Linked DNA regions of Homo sapiens. The protein of the gene in region 1 purifies or fractionates together with the protein of each later gene. This does not show direct contact. Each region holds a gene or a part of one and is shown on either strand. Other genes may lie near its edges.

Region 1 (3,520 bases):
TGAGTTTTAAACTAAGATTGATTTCTTTTTTTATATACAATTATTGGTTTATGCTATTATCTTTTAAAACTTTAGAAAAAAAAGAAGAGTTACAAACCAAAAATAGGTAGTTCTTTGATGAGTGCTTTTTTTATGTCTTTGTCTGGGTTCAAGTTATTGTCTAATGTCCCTTCATTTCAGCTTGAAGAAGTCCCTTTGTCATTTTTTGTAGGTAAGATCTACTAGAGATAAGCTCAGTTTTTGTCTGTCTGAGAATGTCTTAAATTCTTCTTCATATTGGAAAGATAGTTTGGCCAGATACAAAATTCTTTGTGGATTATTCAATTACTTTGAAGATGTCATCCCATTGCTCTCTGGCTTCCATGATTTCTGATGAAAAATTAGCTGTTAACTTATTGAGGCTCTCTTGTACATAAGTCACTTCACTCTTGCTACTTTTAAGATTATTTTTGGCTTTTAATAGTTTAATTATAACTTGGTGTGGCTCTCTGTTAACTTACATAGAGTTTGTTGAGCTTCTTTGATGTATAGCTTTATGCCTTTTGTCAAATTTCAAAAGTTTTAAACCATTATTTCCTTAAGCATTCTTTCTGTCCCCTTCTCTCCTCTCTTCTGGGACTCCAACTATGCATAACAGTCCCACAGGTTTCTGAGGCTCTGCTCATTTTTATTCATTCTTTTTTTTCCCTGATCTTCAGCATAATCTCAATTGACCTATTTTCAGTTTCATGAATTCTTTCTTTTGCCTGCTCAAATCTGATTTGAACACTTCTTGCGAATTTCTCATTTCAGTTATTATGCTTTTCAACACCATAATTTCTCTTTGGTTCCTTTTTATAACTTCTACATCTTTGCTGGTATTCACTATTTGGTGAGACATCAGTCTCATGGTTTCCTTATTTGCAAATTGTTTCCTTTAGCTATTTGAGAATATTTAAAATAATTGATATAAAATCTTTGTCTAGTGAGTCCAATGTCTGAGCTTCCTCAGGAATAGTTTCTATTAATTTCCTTTTCTCCTGTCCATGGGCCATATGTTCTTATTTATTTATACTTGTTGAATATCCGATACTTTGACAAGTATAATGTGAAATCTCTGGAAATCAGAATCTTCCACCTTCTCTGGGGTTTTTTGTTACTTCTTGTTGTAGTTGTTTTGTTTAGTTAGTGACTTTTCTAAACAAATTTTGTAAAGTCTGTATTCTTCGTCACATGTAGCTACTGAATTCTGTCCCATGAACTTAGTAGTCATCTAATAGTTCAACAGAGATTTCCTTAAATGCCTAGAATCAACCCAAATCAAACAACAACAACAACAAAAACCTCCCAGTCTTTGTAAATGGGCTTCGTATATGTTGAGCATGCCTTCAACACACAGTTTACAACTTCCTTAGTCCTCAGTTCCTGCTTACACAGATCCTAAAAGTCACTCCGAGAAGAAAACTTGGGGTCTTTCTCAGGTTTTTTTTTTTTTTTTAGTATGCACTCAGTCCTGGGCATGCAGTTGGCCTTCTAGATTACCAGGAATATGTGGGTACTTTTCAAAGGGTATTCCCCAAAATAACTCTTTCCCCAGCCTTTCTTTCTCAGCTTTTTGGTTACTCTATTGTTTGCCCCAACTATTATGCCTTTCCCCAGGTGGCAGCAATAAAAACATTTGCTTTTAAATGTTTCCAAACTATACCTCCAGGGTAGCCATCTCATCTGTGAAAAAGTTCTGAGTTAAACAAACTAATGGCAAGCCTTTTATGTAATACTTCATGGAAGCACCAGACAGGTCAAAGCCACAGTTCTTTGGGAATAAGGTCCATGCTGCTCCCACTTGTACTATGTACCTGTAGTTGGAATGTCAGCTGTCTTTAAAACCACCACCAAGATGGGAAATGAGGAAAACCTGAGTAAGTTAAAGTGTTAAAAAGTTATTTTACAGAGATTCAAGGTTTTATTTAATTATTATTAAATATTTCCCTGGTTGCTGTAAGCTTTTGATTAGTTTCAAGTTTTAAAAAACTCGATCTTCAAAATTTTTGCCAGTTTTTGTGGAGGGATGGACTTTGGGACTTCTCTACTCCACCATTTTTTTTATTATTATTATACTTTAAGTTTTAGGGTACATGTGCACAATGTGCAGGTTAGTTACATATGTATACATGTGCCATGTTGGTGTGCTGCACCCATTAACTCATCATTTAGCATTAGGTATATCTCCTAATGCTATCCCTCCCCCCTCCCCCCACCCCACAACAGTCCCCAGAGTGTGATGTTCCCCTTCCTGTGTCCATGTGTTCTCAGTGTTCAATTCCCACCTATGAGTGAGAACATGCAGTGTTTGGTTTTTTGTCCTTGCAATAGTTTACTGAGAATGATGATTTCCAATTTCATCCATGTCCCTAAAAAGGACATGAACTCATCATTTTTTATGGCTGCATAGTATTCCATGGTGTATATGTGCCACATTTTCGTAATCCAGTCTATCATTGTTGGACATTTGGGTTGGTTCCAAGTCTTTGTTATTGTGAATAGTGCCACAATAAACATACATGTGCATGTGTCTTTATAGCAGCATGATTTATAGTCCTTTGGGTATATACCCTGTAATGGGATTGCTGGGTCAAATGGTATTTCTAGTTCTAGATCCCTGAGGAATCACCACACTGACTTCCACAATGGTTGAACTAGTTTACAGTCCCACCAACAGTGTAAAAGTGTTCCTATTTATCCACATCCTCTGTAGCACCTGTTGTTTCCTGACTTTTCAATGATGCCATTCTAACTGGTGTGAGATGGTATCTCATTGTGGTTTTGATTTGCATTTCTCTGATGGCCAGTGATGGTGAGAATTTTTTCATGTGATTTTGGCTGCATAAATGTCTTCTGAGAAGTGTCTGTTCATGTCCTTTGCCCACTTTTTGATGGGGTTGTTTTTTTCTTGTAAATTTGTTTGAGTTCATTGTAGATTCTGGATATTAGCCCTTTGTCAGATGAGTAGGTTGCGAAAATTTTCTCCCATTTTGTAGATTGCCTGTTCACTCTGATGGTAGTTTCTTTTGCTGTGCAGAAGCTCTTTAGTTTAATTAGATCGCATTTGTCAATTTTGGCTTTTGTTGCCCTTGCTTTTGGTGTTTTAGACATGAAGTCCTTGCCCATGCCTATGTCCTGAATGGTAATGCCTAGGTTTTCTTCTAGGGTTTTTATGGTTTTAGGTCTAATGTTTAAGTCTTTAATCAGTCTTGAATTAATTTTTGTATAAGGTGTAGGGAAGGGATCCAGTTCCAGCTTTCTACATATGGCTAGCCAGTTTTCCCAGCACCATTTATGAAATAGGGAATCCTTTCCCCATTGCTTGTTTTTCTCAGGTTTCCAAAGGTTAGATAGTTGTAGATATGCGGCATTATTTCTGAGGGCTCTGTTCTGTTCCATTGATCTCTATCTCTGTTTTGGTACCAGTACCATGCTGTTTTGGTTACTGTAGCCTTGTAGTATAGTTTGAAGTCAGGTAGCATGATGCCTCTAGCTTTGT
Region 2 (3,520 bases), on another chromosome or scaffold:
GAAAGGCCAAATAATAGACAGTGAATGGCATGTCCCAAATTATGGAATATAAGTATTAGAAAGTTTAAGAGCTACAGAGGCCAAGTGTGGTGGTTCATGCCTGTAATCGCAGCATTTTGGGAGGCTGAGGCAGGAGGATTGCTTGAGGCCAGGAGTTTGAGACTAGCCTGGGCAACAGAGCAAGACACCGTCTCTTAAAAAAAAAAGAGAGAGAGAGAGGTTAAAAAAAAAAAAGTGCTGCAGAGATGCAGCATGAAATGACACTGAGTATGAGAAGTCAGGGTAGCAGCTATCCCTGGCAGGGGCATTAAGGGCCTCTGGAAGGCTGGTCGTGCTCTGCTTCTTGATCTGGTGCTAGTGACATGGGTGTGCTAAGTTTCTGAAAGTTCACAGAGTCATACATTGAAGATCTATGTGTGTTTTTAATGTGTATCATATTTTAATACAAAGTTTTTTTAAAAATAGGCTGAGCGCGGTGGCTCGCCCCTTAATCCCAGCACTTTGGGAGCCAAGGTGGGAGGATCACTTGAGGTCTGGAGTTCGAGACCAGCCTGGCCAACATGGTGAAACCCCATCTCTACTAAAAATACAAAAATTAGCCAGGCATGGTGGCACACACCTGTAATCCCAGCTAATTGGGAGGCTAAGGCAAGAGAATCACCTGAAGCCGGGAGGTGGAGGTGCAGTGAGCCAAGATGGTGCCATCGCACTCCAGCCTGGGCGACAGAGCGAGACTCCGCCTCAAAAATCGCTTGAACCCAGGAGGTGGAGGTTGCAATGAGCCGAGATCATGCCATTGCACTCCAGCCCGGGTGACAGTGCGAGACTCCGTCTCAAAAAAAAAAAGTTTTAAAAAAATAATGTTGAATGCCATGGTGAGCACACTATTCCCTTTTCAGTGCTTTTTTCATTGTTTCTGGTTATCTTAAAGTCTCTGATTGGTGCTTGAATGTCTTTACCATCTCTCCAATACTAGCTAATCTCCACTTTTATTTTAATTTTTTTTTTGAGACAGGGTCTTGCTCTGTCACCCAAGCTGGAGTGCAGTGGCACCATCAGGACTCACTGCAGCCTCAACTTCCCAGACTCAAGCGATCCTCCTGCCTCTGTCTCAAGTAGCTGAGACTACAGGCATGCACACCCAGCTAATTTTTGTATTTTCTGTAGAGACAGGGTCTCACTATGTTGCCCAGGCTGGTCTTGAACTCCCGGGCTCAAGCGATCTACCCACCTTGGCCTCCCAAAGTGTTAGAACTACAGGCTTGAGCCACTGCATCTGGCCTAATCTCCTTTTTTTTTTTTTTTTGAGCTGGAGTCTTTCTCTGTTGCCCAGGCTGGAGTGCAGTGGTGCAATCTCGGCTCACTGCAACCTCTACCTCCTGGGCACAAGCAATTCTCCACAATGCCTCAGCCTCCCAAGTAGCTGGGATTACAGGCACTCACCACCATGCCCGGCTAATTTTTGTATTTTTAGTAGAGTCGAAGTTTCACCGTGTTGGCCAGGCTGGTCTCAAGCTCCTGACCTCAGGTGATCTGCCCGCTTTGTCTCCCAAACTGTTGGGAATACAGGCATGAGCCACCGCGCCCAGCCCTAATCTCCTTTTTTAATAAGCCTCTTTTTAATAAGCCTCTTTTTTAACAGGCCTCTGAGGTTTAGACCCTTCGGCACACAAGAGACTCTGGGTAAATTTTAATAATCATCATATTTATTTCCATGGCAAGTGATTCTGGTTTTCCATTTGTGAAATTTCCATTTAAAAAACATTTATTTAAAAAGCTGTCGAAAAGCAAGCCAGTTCATGAGTTGGTAATTGTTGAAGCTGATTGATGGGTATCTAGGGGCTTTATTTTCATTATAACCTTCTCTCTATTTCTGTATCCACTTCACATTTTCCATAATAAGGTGCTTTTTTAAAAAATTGAGCCAATTAACAAAATTATTATGTAAATAGTTGCGCACAGTGGTCTTATGCCTGAGACTGTGACAGAAGCACATGAATCACTTCAGTTAGGGAAAGACTGACACAGAAGAGATGGAGAGAAGTTGAGAGGCAAAGCCCAGAGAAACAGGGCGTACAGGGCGAGTTGTGGACAGAGCCCGAGGCCAGGAAGGGGAGGGAGAAACCTTCATTCCCTTGGTCCCACTGGCATCCCCAAAAGAAGGAAGCCTGCTGCCAGTTTGAGAACAGACTGCAAAGATCTGATTCAACTGAGGACAGGGTGGGGGCAATGGATACACGCTGTGCTCTGAGGGCTAAGGCAATAGCCAAACCTGCCATCAGAGGGTCAAGGAGGTCAAGATCGAGAGCCTGTCTCCCCTAGACCCCGTTCAAAGCGCTCAGCACAGAAGCAGGACATCTGCTCACAAAGCACTTTTATCCTCTCCTCTCATGGTAGCATGGGGGTACACCAGACATGGAGGCAACCACAGAGGCCATCCCATCCGACTGCCCCCTCCCCCCTGACCAATGATACTGAAGAGGAAACTGAGAGGCCCAGAGAGGGGAAGTGACTTTCCCATGGTCACAGAGCAAAGCTGTAGCAGGGTGGGGAGCAGTTCCCAGCCTCCCACCCCATCCCTCAGCCACCACTGGTCAGGGTCTGGAGTCCTGCTCACACCTTCTCTGCCCCCACCTCCAGTGCTACCTTCAAGCCTCTGGACCTGCCTGCTACCCCTGGACCAGGCTGGAGGGTGGAGACTGGAGCCCAGGCAACCCCAAGAAGCCCAGAATGCCAGGCACAGGGCCCCATCTGGATGTGGAATTTGCACTGCCTGGCTGCTTCCGGCCTCCCTGTCATTCTCTCCTGCATTCCTACAGCTATCCTCAACTGGTACCAGCCCCCCCACCCCCACCTCAGCTGGCCGCTAAATGTGTATATTGGGGGACAGGCGGTGGTGCAGGCCTCTGTTGGGTCAGGGAAGTTGGGATGGGGGCGGGCCTTTGGCTTCCTGTTGTTCATCGCCCTGGGGCTCTGGGGGGGATTTCCCTAGCCACCCCCACCCCCTAGGGAAGGGGAAGGAGCCTGCGTGAGTCACAGGCCTGGGGTGGGAGCCCAAGAGTGAGAAGGGGCGGGAGGAACCTCGTTACCAAGGTACCAAGGCTCAGTGCTCTCTCAGCCCTTGGACTGAGGCAGGCCTCCTGAGGACCCTCTTCCAAGCGCTGCCCACTTCCCTGGCTGTTCTGACAGGTGCTTACCTTTGTACTGGGGCCAGTTGGGGACACGGAGAATGGGGAGGTCTTATTTTGGGGGTTCTGCAAAGAGAAAGTAGGAGCAAGGGGATGGGAATAGTGCAGTGAAGCAGCTTCTGACCACCCCCGCTCCCTGCCCTCCTACCATAGGCGGCACAGAGCCCCCTCTGAACCCCTCTCCCCATTCCTTCCCACCCCCTCCCGCTTATCCACTCCCTCCTAACCTGATGATTAGTGTCTGGTCCATTTCTTTCGGTGTCTGCAAAGAGAGGGAAAGGATGTGTTGTCATCAGCCACCCCCACCACACCTGTCCCCTCCCAGCTCTCTT
Region 3 (3,520 bases), on another chromosome or scaffold:
TTCTAATTGGTAACCAAGTCTGAGAACCACTGCCTTAAATGATACTTCTTTATACATTTTGAGTATCCTAACTTAAGCATCTGGGAGAAGTTATAGAATATATCACTATGATTACATAATGGTTAAACATCATGTTTAACTATCAACAACTTACTTTCATACTCGACCCTCATTCACTCATTCTTTCAACAGATTATTTATTAAATGCCTATTGTGCTGAAATATTAATAACAAATAATAATATTAGAGATGAAGATGACTGTCTTTATCAAAGTTTGCACCCAAACTAAGAAAATGGGCAAATTAAACATGAGTGAGCATTTACTCCCAACATCAGGCTTTTGAAAGATCTCCCTGTAAGGCTGGTTGTGAACTGCTCACCTGAAATTCTCCTGACAAGACTCTGCGAGTATAGATGTTGCTGGTGTAAGGTTCAATGGACTCATTATTCCCCAGGATCTGAGCAGTGGAAGCTGTAGGCATCGGGGCAATAAGTAAACTGTTTCTTATACCATACCTAAAGAAAAGGAGATTATCAGGTACTAGTCCCAAAGCTACAATCTGCCAGGAAAGCAGCTACTTTAAGTCACTGTAGTAAATGTAGATAAATGTAGTAAATGTAAATGTAACATCGTACATGCATTGAACTCACACGTTGACTTTCAAATTAAACTCCTACAGGGAGGCAATTCCACAGTATGGGTGCTATTATAGCCCACTCTCCTCTTAAATGCCTGACTCCTAAACTGAATTAGTACAATTTTTATTGTTGGCTATCCTTATCATACCATGATTTATGCCACTTGGACTGTGGCACTCAGGAATCATAACACTTGATACACTATCTTGCGTAGGGAAATATTCAAATCACTGTTGAAGCGCTCCCCACCTGTATTAGGTTACACTCATCCAACCCTCACTCTTTTCCAAGTGCCTATAAAATCATTGTGCTAGGCCCCTTCTGGAAAAATAATGATGAGAAAGTGTTCAGAATCAGAGAAATATCACCACAATTCTCCATTATCCTGTAAAGAGGAAGAAATTATGCTCAAAGTATATTCTTCAATTATAAGTTCCTGCAAGAAGGTTAACATCTTTTGACTAATAAGAGAAAATACACTATCTGACACACTGAGAAATCTCCCAACTGCCCCTGGCTCACCTTCAAAGCTCAGCCTAATTGATAGCAATTTTAAAACATCTTTCCTCATCAGGCAGGCACAAATACAAATGTCAAATACAAATATCTACTCTGCAAACATTTTCTCTGACCTGTACCTTTCCGTATACCTTAACTACTTGTTTTCTTAGTCTCAAGTTTTTAAAACACAAAGAGCCTGTCTTTCCTACATTCTATACCTATGGATTCATACAGTGCTTAGCATACAGCCTCATATCCTGACGGAGTCTGTACAACTGGATATAGTTTGGCTGTGTCCCCACCCAAATCTCATCTTGAACTGTAGTTCCCATAATCCCCACGTTACGGGAGGGACCTGGCGGGAGGTAATTTAATCACAGAGGAGGTTACCCTCATGCTGTTCTCATGAGATAGTGAGTTCTCACAAGATCTGGTTTTATAAGGGGCTTTTCTCCCTTTACTCAGCACTTTGCTTGCCGCCGTATTAAAGAAGGACCTGTTTGCCTCCCCTTCTGCTATGATTGTAAGTTTCCTGAGGCCTCCCCAACCCTGCGGAACTGTGAGTCAATTAAACCTCTTTCCTTTTTAAATTACCCAGTCTCAGGCAGTTCTTTATAACTGTGTGAGAATCGACTAATACAACTGGGTTCTCTACTTTTTAGTTATTATTATTTTTTTATTTACTTTTTTTGGGGGGTGGTTCTCCACCTTACTCTGTCACTTTGTAGTGAGGTATCAAGCAAACCACCAACTATCTTCATGTCTTTACTTCCTCATCTGTAAAATAGCAACATCATCTGTCTACAGACAGGTAAATGTTGTGAAAAGTCCTACATATATGATATATTCAAACTATGGAATTGTCTATAATAATTAAAAACATTAGGTAGACCTACAGGTACTAAAAGAGAAAGAGCTCCAAAATAAATCACTAAATAACAAGTCTCAGAATACATCAAGTCTTTTTTTTGAGACAGAGTCACAGTTACCTAGGCTGGAGTACAGTGGCATGATCTCGGCTCCCTGTAATCTCCACCTCCTAGGTTCAAGTGATTCTCATGTCTCAGCCTCCCAAGTAGCTGGGATTACAGGCATGCACCACCACGCCCAGCTAATTTTTGTATTTTTAGTAGAGACTAAGTTTCGCCATGTTGCCCAAGCTGGTCTTGAACTCCTGACCTCAAGTGATCCACCCACCTCAGCCTCTCAAAGTGCTGGGATTACAGACGTGAGTCATGGTGCCCAGCCCAGAATACATCAAGTTTGATCACATTTATATGACAAAACCGTGTATGTGTACCTATCTGCAAATGTACTGAAAAAGATCTAGAAAAATACACACCATTAACAAGTCTTATCTCTGGGAAAAAGAATAAGTTACTTTTTTGGTTTGTTTTCTGAGACAAATGGTTGGCAGAAGTATGAAGAAGGGCTTTTACTTTCTATTTTATTTCTGTATTTGAGCTTTATTAATAATAAATTTGTGTTCATATACTAATTTTGAAATTAGAAAAAAAGTCATGTATATAAAAAACTAAGCCATAGTATTTTGAGGGGAAAAAAAAAAAAAAAAAATATATATATATATATATATAAATACAGTACAGGTCCATTTTCTTAAAAGTTGAATTTCCATGTAAATACACATGTATGTGTACTCTTGGAAGAAAACCTAAAGGATGACAGACACTAAGATGCACACAGGTTTTCTGGGGGAGGCAGTATTAGTATAATTTTCATTTTCTCTTTCCAAATCTATGTTTTCCTAAATTTTCTAACATGTATTATTTGAGTAGGAAAACAATTTTAATTTAACAATTTTAAGGCAAACGGTTATTTTTTTTAAAGAGCATTTTAAAGCTACTGCTTCATTCTCCAAATATTAATCACTTTGCATATGCATTAACCCATAAATGACAAAGTCATCACGATAGAAAACAAAAACAATTTGCTTTGTTATTCACTCTGCAAAACATTCTGTCTGCCTTCGAATCCCTTATGCTTATTAGTTTGAAAGGCCTACAAAAACTCAATTTAAAAATTTTTTTTTCATATAGTCTAAACACATTACCCTCCAAAAACTCTTCCAAAATCCATTATTCCTATGACAATCAATTCAAACAAAAGCCATTTATATGCCCGATGTAACTAAATTGGGAAATAAATAAGAATGAAAAACATTTAAAAAAAAAAATCATAGTTGGAAAAAAGCCTTAATGAGAAAGAAAATTACCTAATCTAGGTGTGTTAAGTCCCTAAAATAAGATCAACTAATAATAGTAATTCCTACCAGGTACTGAAATGCTTTCATTGTGCCAAGCAACTTCCAGGTTACTATATATATTATCTTACGAAGTTTTTTCCCAAAATAGTTTTGTG
Region 4 (3,520 bases), on another chromosome or scaffold:
TTACTCATTAAGCCATATCCTCAGACCTATAGATGGAGGAAAATTTATTGGCAGTTGATGGTAAAAATAAATTCAAAAATCAAGAAAAGTCACATCTCCTAACTTTTAAAAGTCAGAGTGCCCAAATAAGTCTTATAAACAGGCAAATTCTGGATTGTTACTGAGATTTTTAAGCGATGATATTTTTTATTATAGCTACTCTGCTCAGTGCATCTTTAAATAGCACTAGGTTACAGATGACATCACTTTACAATGTAATACCCCAAACTAATGAACTAATAGACTAAAATAATGACCTCAAAAAGTGAACTTGCTAATTTCTTTCTTTGAGGAATTCCCCTTCTTCAGACATAACAGAAACATTTGTAGAACAGAAGTAAGCAACATAAGAGAATGAACTAAATACATAACTTCTAACTCTTCCTTTGTCATTAATTAATACATGGAGATAACAGTGCAAAAATACCATCAGGCACTGAAACTCCTGTTTCAAGTTCAAGTCTGCACTTAAGCTTTCCCCCCATTATTTAGAGTTTGCATAGCAATGGACACTCAGAGATAAGAGGAAAGAAAAATCAGATTAGCTGCCCTCAAGGACCTCACAAACTGGCTGAAGGAACAAGTTATATAGGCACAGATAAAACATGACCCAAACAAAATCCCTCCCTTTTGCAAACCTTGTTCTTCCTTTTGCATTTCTGATGTTAGCCAAAGGCATCCTAACAGCCCAGGCAAGAAATCTTTAGCACATTTAATTTATAAGCTTAAGTGTAAGAATATTTTACATTGTTAACATGAAAAACACAATGAAAGCCTATATAATGGCCGGGTGCGGTGGCTCATGCCTGCAATCCCAGCACTTTGGAGGTGGGTGGATCACAAGGTCAAGAGATCAAGACCATCCTGGAAAACATGGTGAAACCCTGTCTCCACTAAAAATACAAAAATTAGCTGGGCGTCGTGGCGTGCACCTGGAGTCCCGGCTACTTGGGAGGCTGAGGCAGGAGAATTGCTTGAACCAAGGAGGCCGAGGCTGCGGTGAGCAGAGATTGTGTCACTGCACTCCAGCCTGGCGACAGAGCAAGACTCAGTCTCAAAAAAAAAAAAAAAGGAAAGCATATATAATATAAAAGACAGAAAATAACATAAAAGCACATAAAATGCCAAAACACTTGTTAAATTCTCTTATCATGTATATATTCAGTGATTTCAAATATTGCTCATATGCCGTGTCAACATAGTCTGTTCCTTAAGCAGTGAGCTCTGCTTTTCCAGAGCCCTGGGAGGTACAAGGCCTTCCCAAACTGGAGACAGAGTCAAAGTGGAGAGCGCACCCTCAGGCAGCTCTGTATTGTTTTACTTTCTATCAGGGCTGCCAAGTCAAAATATCGTTCTATATGGCCCACCAATCAGAGATTGATTTTGGTTAACCAGCTCGTCCCAAAACACAAATACTCCTTAGACAGGTAACTTGTCACCCCCAAGTGGAAGGACAGGTAAAAAGAAAGAAAAACTACTATATGCATATAGCTATTGTATTCTCTTTTCATGATCATTATGACACGGGAGAAAACCTTTATAACTACACCCCAGAGAAGCTAAAGACCAACGAACATCATGAGAAATGAAGATAAATAGTGACAGGAACAGTCCTAAACATTACCATTTTTCATATGGAACATTCTTTTGAGGAGCCAATCACATTTTTAGTTTTGCTGTATCATATTCCTAAAATATTATTCTATATGTATCCAACTGATAATTTCCAGACCCTTCTCCAATAATTCAGCTAACTGAAACATGTACATACACTAAATTGACACTTATACTTTGCCCTTTGATCCAAATGCAGAATAATGAACCAGGCTCTTGCTCAGTTCTTACAAGTAGTCTGTAATTAATTTTAAAAAATTGTCTTATCATATAAAATTATATATGAATAAAGACCAAAAAGGACACAAAAATGACAACAACTTGATTTGTTAGATCATGAAACTTGAGGTGATTTGTTTTTCTTTCAGATTTCTGGCATACTGTCTAGATTAAAAACAAAACATAACAAAGTGCTTTTCCTTCCATTCCCCAGGAACTAACCCAAATGCATAAAAGCAAAGAATTCACACTAAACACATTTATGGAATCAACAGGAAGACTGAATTTAGGTTATAGTACATCAAACTTAGGTTACAGTACATCAAACATTAAGAAAAAGAGACTTGTCGGCACAGTGTGCTACATGTTAGAATACAGCTAGGCTATAGGAGGAAGGAAGCAAAATTTGAGACACCAAATAGAGTTTGAAGTTCCTCAAATGCATAAGGAATTCCAAATTTCACAGAGCTCAGGGAAGAGCTGGCCCTGTTTCTAAAACCAGATAGTTCTGCAGTCTCAGTTAAGACAACAGGTCTAAGTTCTAATGTCACACCTTTAAAGGGAGACAGCGAAGTCTGCCTTGCTGCCTCATCAGGCTGTGAAGCTTCACAAAAGCACGAGGACTGCGTCACTATTTCCACAATGTCCAGCTGCCACTGGCTGCCCAGCATCTTAACCATTTCTGTCTTTGAAGTTTGTAGCAGACTTTACTTTTTCTCTGAAAATAAATCTGATTCTACAAGCAAGGTGTAGCAACAGGATCCTAGGAGGTAGCTGAGGAGTTCAGTGAAGGTACTGTTTGCAAAGGTGTGGGCAAGATTAAGGGGTCCAAAAAGGGATGGGGCAGCACCCTAGGATGAGGCATTATCAACCTCAGGCCTGAAGAGGCACAAGGAGGGGGCAGCTACTGGAAACACAGAGAAAGCAGTTGGACAGGAGGCACAGTCCCTGACAGAGGGGCACAGCCAATGTAAAGTGCGCACAGGCAAGGAAGAAAGCTGGCAGAATAACTACTCCAACTTCTGGCCTTATGGCAGGGCCTCACATTCATCTGACCTGGCAGAAGCCGGAGGGCAAGGGAGCCCATTCAGGAAGGCCACCTTGCTGTGGCAGAGTCAAGAGTAGATCTGCCTGGCCAACAAGGGTGAAACCAGGTCTCTACTAAAAATACAAAAATTAGCTGGGCATGGTGGCACATGCCTGTAGTCCCAGCTACTTGGGAGGCTGAGGCAGGAGAATTGCTTGAAGCCAGGAGGCAGAGGTTGCAGTGAGCCGACATTGCACTGTTGCACTCCAGCCTGGCAACAGAGCAAGACTTAGTGCCCCCTGCCCCCAGAAAAAAGAGTAGATCGAGAGAGACAAAGGAGAAGATCAGGATGGATGCAGTAGCTCACGCCTGTAATCCCAGCACTTTGGGAGGCTGAGGCGAGTGGATCACCTGAGGTCAGGAGTTCGACATCAAACCCCATCTCTACTAAAAATATGAAAATTAGCCGGGGTGGTGGCTAGCACCTGTAATCCCAGCTACTCGGGAGGCTGAGGTAGGAGAATCACTGGAACCCGGGCAACAGAGTGAGACTCCATCTCAAAAAAAAAAAAAAAGAAGATCAGCATGCAAAGCAAATAGGTACTTGGAGACAGTTATTGG
Region 5 (3,520 bases), on another chromosome or scaffold:
GCCTAAAAACAGTATGCTAAAATTCTGTAAAGCTTAGTGAAATTACAAAAATGCTTGGTTTTTTTGTTGATTTTTTTTTTTTGGAAACAGAGTTTCACTCTGTCACCCAGGCTAAAGTGCAGTGGCATGATCTCAGCTCACTGCAACCTCTGCCCACTAGGTTCAAGCAATTCTCCTGCCTCAGTCTCCCAAGCAGCTGGGATTACAGGCACGCGCCACCATGCTTGGCTAATTTTTTGTGTTTTTAGTGGAGATGGGCTTTTACCACGTTCGCCAGTCTGGTCTTGAACTCCTGACCTCAAGCGATCCACCTGCCTCATCCTCCCAAAGTGCTGGGATTACAGGCGTGAGTCACCACACCCGGCCGATGCTTGTTTTTTTAATTTTTTTTGAGATGTGATCTCACTCTGTCACCCAGGCTGGAGTGCAGTGGAGCAATTTCAGCTCACTACAGCCTCTCTCCTGGGCTCAAGTGATCCTCCTGCCTCAGCCTCCTGCGTAGCTGGGACTACAGCCAAGGGCATGTCACCACACTGGGCTAATTTTTAATTTTTTGAAGAGATGAGGTATCACTACATTGCCCAGGTTTGTCATGAACTCCTGGGCTCAAGCAATCCTCCCACCTTGGCCTCCCAAAATGCTGGGATTATAGGCATGAGGCACTGCACCTGGCTTCATGCCTTTTATAGAATAATATAATAAAAACATTTGATAAAAGTTTCAGAAGTCTATGAAGAGAACAGAAACCAATTTTTCAAATTGGAGATCTTCGTTAAAACTTGTCTGGATTATTTCAAGAAGTGACCATTTCTGCAAAATAACACAAGCTAGTCATTTTTTCTAACAATTTTTAAAATGCAAATTAACAGAAAAATTTTTATAGTTTAAAAATTCTAATTATAATACCCCTAACTATTAAAGCTTATAAAAGGATATGAGCATATAAAATCAAAGAGATTAAGTAGCCAAAGATCTGGGACTTGAAACTAGGGCTGTGATTCCTAACCTATTTTTACTATTATTCTACAGCAAACTATAGCATATTCTATTAAACCTTTCAAAACTAGTGCAGTGGTATGGGCAATTATAGCATAAGATTGTGACCATATTACATAATATTATAATAACTATCTATGTATAACTATATTATATAGTTAATATATTAACTATCACACCTGGGCATGGTGGCTCGCGCCTGTAATCCCAGCACTTTGGGAGGCCAAGGCAGGCAGATTGCCTGAGCTCCGGAGTTCGAGACCAGCCTAGGCAACCCGGTGAAACCCTGTCTCTACTAAAATACAAAAACTTAGCTGGGTGTGGCGGCGTGCGACTATAGTCCCAGGTACTCCGGAGGCTGAGGCAGAATTGCTTGAACCCAGGAGGCAGAGGTTGCAGTGACCTGAGATCATGCCACTGCATTCCAGTCTGGGCAACAGAACGAGACTCCATCTCCAAAATAAAAAAAGAAGATATTAACTATCACATAGCCACTTCAAAGGTTAAAGGGTAACTTTATGTCAGAAAAGTAGTGAAATAAGACTTATAAATGATGAGGGTACGTACAGGTGAGAAACAGAATTTGTACGGGAATGTAAAAGTCTAATTCGCTATCAGCATTTAGATATATAGATGACAGACAGATAGAAATTAACTGGCCAAAGAAAGACTCCTAACACAAAAAAAGCTTTCTGCAAACACCTTGGGAACAGCATGACACTAGTGAAAACAAAATGTTCTGGAATTACACGATTGATAAGATACTAGAATCTGTTGATACTTTAGGATTAGAAAACTGACATAAATTGTAAACTTGAATAAAGCCTTTCTAGATTTACCATAAAAAGACAATTCTTTGGGCTTCGTGTTCCATGTATGGTTCTCATTCTGTTAGAATAAACCCCTACTAATATGACAATTAAATAATGTAAATGTAAATAGCAGAATAATATATGCTACAGTGAGTTAACAGGTTGTTAAAAGTCAGTATTCTGGTCAGGCGCGGTGGCTCACACCTGTAAACCCAACACTCTGGGAGGCCAAAGCAAGTGGATCACCTGAGCTCAGGAGTTCGAGACCAGCCCAGCCAACATGGTGAAACCCTGTTTCTACTAAAAATACAAAAGATTAGCCGGGTGTGGTGGCGTGTGCCTGTAGTCCAATTACTTAAGAAGCTGAGGCAGGAGAATCACTTGAACCCAGTAGGTGGAGGTTGCAGTGAGCCGGGATCGAGCCACTGCACTCCAGCCTGGGCCACAAAAAAGAAAAGTCGGGATTCCACATCTGTTCTTGACTGATCCAAATATCTCCTTTTTAATACACTGTATGGAAAAATAACTGTTTTTAATTTGACACAATGTGAAAAACTAGTTTGTGAACAAATCAAGAAGTAAAATATATAAAAATAAAAGGAATAGTATATTTTAATTTTAAAAAACATTTAAGGCCGGACGGGGTGGCTCACGTGTTGCAATCCCAGCACTTTGGGAGGCCAAGGCAGTCGGATCACCTGAGGTCGGGAGTTCAAGACCAGCCTGACCAACATGGAGAAACCCCATTTCTACTAAAAATACACAATTAGCCAGGTGTGGTGGCGCATGCCTGTAATCCCAGCTACTTGGGAGGCTGAGGCAGGAGAATCGCTTGAACCCGGGGGGCAGAGGTTGCAGTGAGCCGAGACTGTGCCATTGCACTCCAGCCTGGGCAACAAGAGCAAAACTCCATCTCAAAAAAAAAAAAAATTAATGTGACACTGTCATTCCAAATTTTAAACTCATACCCTGAAGGTAAAAGAGCATTGTCAGTGGCTCCAAGAATGGGAAATAGTATTTCATATGATATTTTTGAGAGACAAGGAGAAAAAAGTCTGTATTTCACTACTACACTAAAGGTTTCATTTAATACAACTCTGGATATCTTCCTATGCTTATGCTTATGTATGTCAAAGATAATACTCCTTCCAAAAATGTCATTAAGTGCTAACATGCTGTTTCTCATAACAAAATTACCTACAATCAATTCACCTGTCACATCAGGTAGCTGGGATATTCCCCTCAATGCCAGCGCCCAGGCAAGTCTAACAGTGGCTTGGAGCCCAGGCAGTTTCCAAAGCTGTGAGTCCTGAAGACGAGAGTGAATTGTTGCAATGTACTGTTTTTCTGTCAACAGTGGAAGTTGATGAATCATATCTGAAAACACAAAAATAGACCACTTTACCGATCACCAGATAAATTCTCACTTCTGATACACAGGAATAATATCCAAAAGTCAGAAAATCTGAGCATTCTCACAGAAGAATAATGACCAATTAACATTAATTTCTACATCCCAAAAGGTACACTACTGTTGATTGTACACATACTAAAAACAAAAAAAGAAAATGACAATAATCCTAAATTTCAATTTCACTATTTTCAGTCATTTTTATAAGTGTACTACAAATAAACAAGAAAAAAGTTAGACACTCATTTTTTCTGCACATAAATTCTAAAATAGAAATCATGCTATCTAAAGATCACAAAAA

The links.
Region 2: the proteins of TRIM69 (region 1) and POU2F2 purify together in Homo sapiens (affinity purification with mass spectrometry, with the first as the bait; one large-scale study listed by BioGRID). This does not show direct contact.
Region 3: the proteins of TRIM69 (region 1) and RRM1 purify together in Homo sapiens (affinity purification with mass spectrometry; 2 studies listed by BioGRID and IntAct, with this or other methods). This does not show direct contact.
Region 4: the proteins of TRIM69 (region 1) and NUP133 purify together in Homo sapiens (affinity purification with mass spectrometry, with the first as the bait; one large-scale study listed by BioGRID). This does not show direct contact.
Region 5: the proteins of TRIM69 (region 1) and NUP205 purify together in Homo sapiens (affinity purification with mass spectrometry, with the first as the bait; one large-scale study listed by BioGRID). This does not show direct contact.

What each region holds. Positions count from the first base shown.
Region 1 is NC_000015.10:44,743,027-44,746,546, reverse strand, and holds part of TRIM69 (E3 ubiquitin-protein ligase TRIM69), read right to left. Parts: intron 1-3,520.
Region 2 is NC_000019.10:42,118,929-42,122,448, forward strand, and holds part of POU2F2 (POU domain, class 2, transcription factor 2), read right to left. Parts: intron 3,451-3,520; coding exon 3,416-3,450; intron 3,255-3,415; coding exon 3,198-3,254; intron 1-3,197. UniProt on the Homo sapiens protein: Transcription factor that specifically binds to the octamer motif (5'-ATTTGCAT-3'). Regulates IL6 expression in B cells with POU2AF1. Regulates transcription in a number of tissues in addition to activating immunoglobulin gene expression.
Region 3 is NC_000011.10:4,129,283-4,132,802, reverse strand, and holds part of RRM1 (ribonucleoside-diphosphate reductase large subunit), read right to left. Parts: intron 518-3,520; coding exon 382-517; intron 1-381. UniProt on the Homo sapiens protein: Provides the precursors necessary for DNA synthesis. Catalyzes the biosynthesis of deoxyribonucleotides from the corresponding ribonucleotides.
Region 4 is NC_000001.11:229,466,829-229,470,348, forward strand, and holds part of NUP133 (nuclear pore complex protein Nup133), read right to left. Parts: intron 1-3,520. UniProt on the Homo sapiens protein: Involved in poly(A)+ RNA transport. Involved in nephrogenesis.
Region 5 is NC_000007.14:135,578,416-135,581,935, reverse strand, and holds part of NUP205 (nuclear pore complex protein Nup205), read right to left. Parts: intron 3,186-3,520; coding exon 3,021-3,185; exon of another isoform or gene 3,010-3,020; intron 1-3,009. UniProt on the Homo sapiens protein: Plays a role in the nuclear pore complex (NPC) assembly and/or maintenance. May anchor NUP62 and other nucleoporins, but not NUP153 and TPR, to the NPC.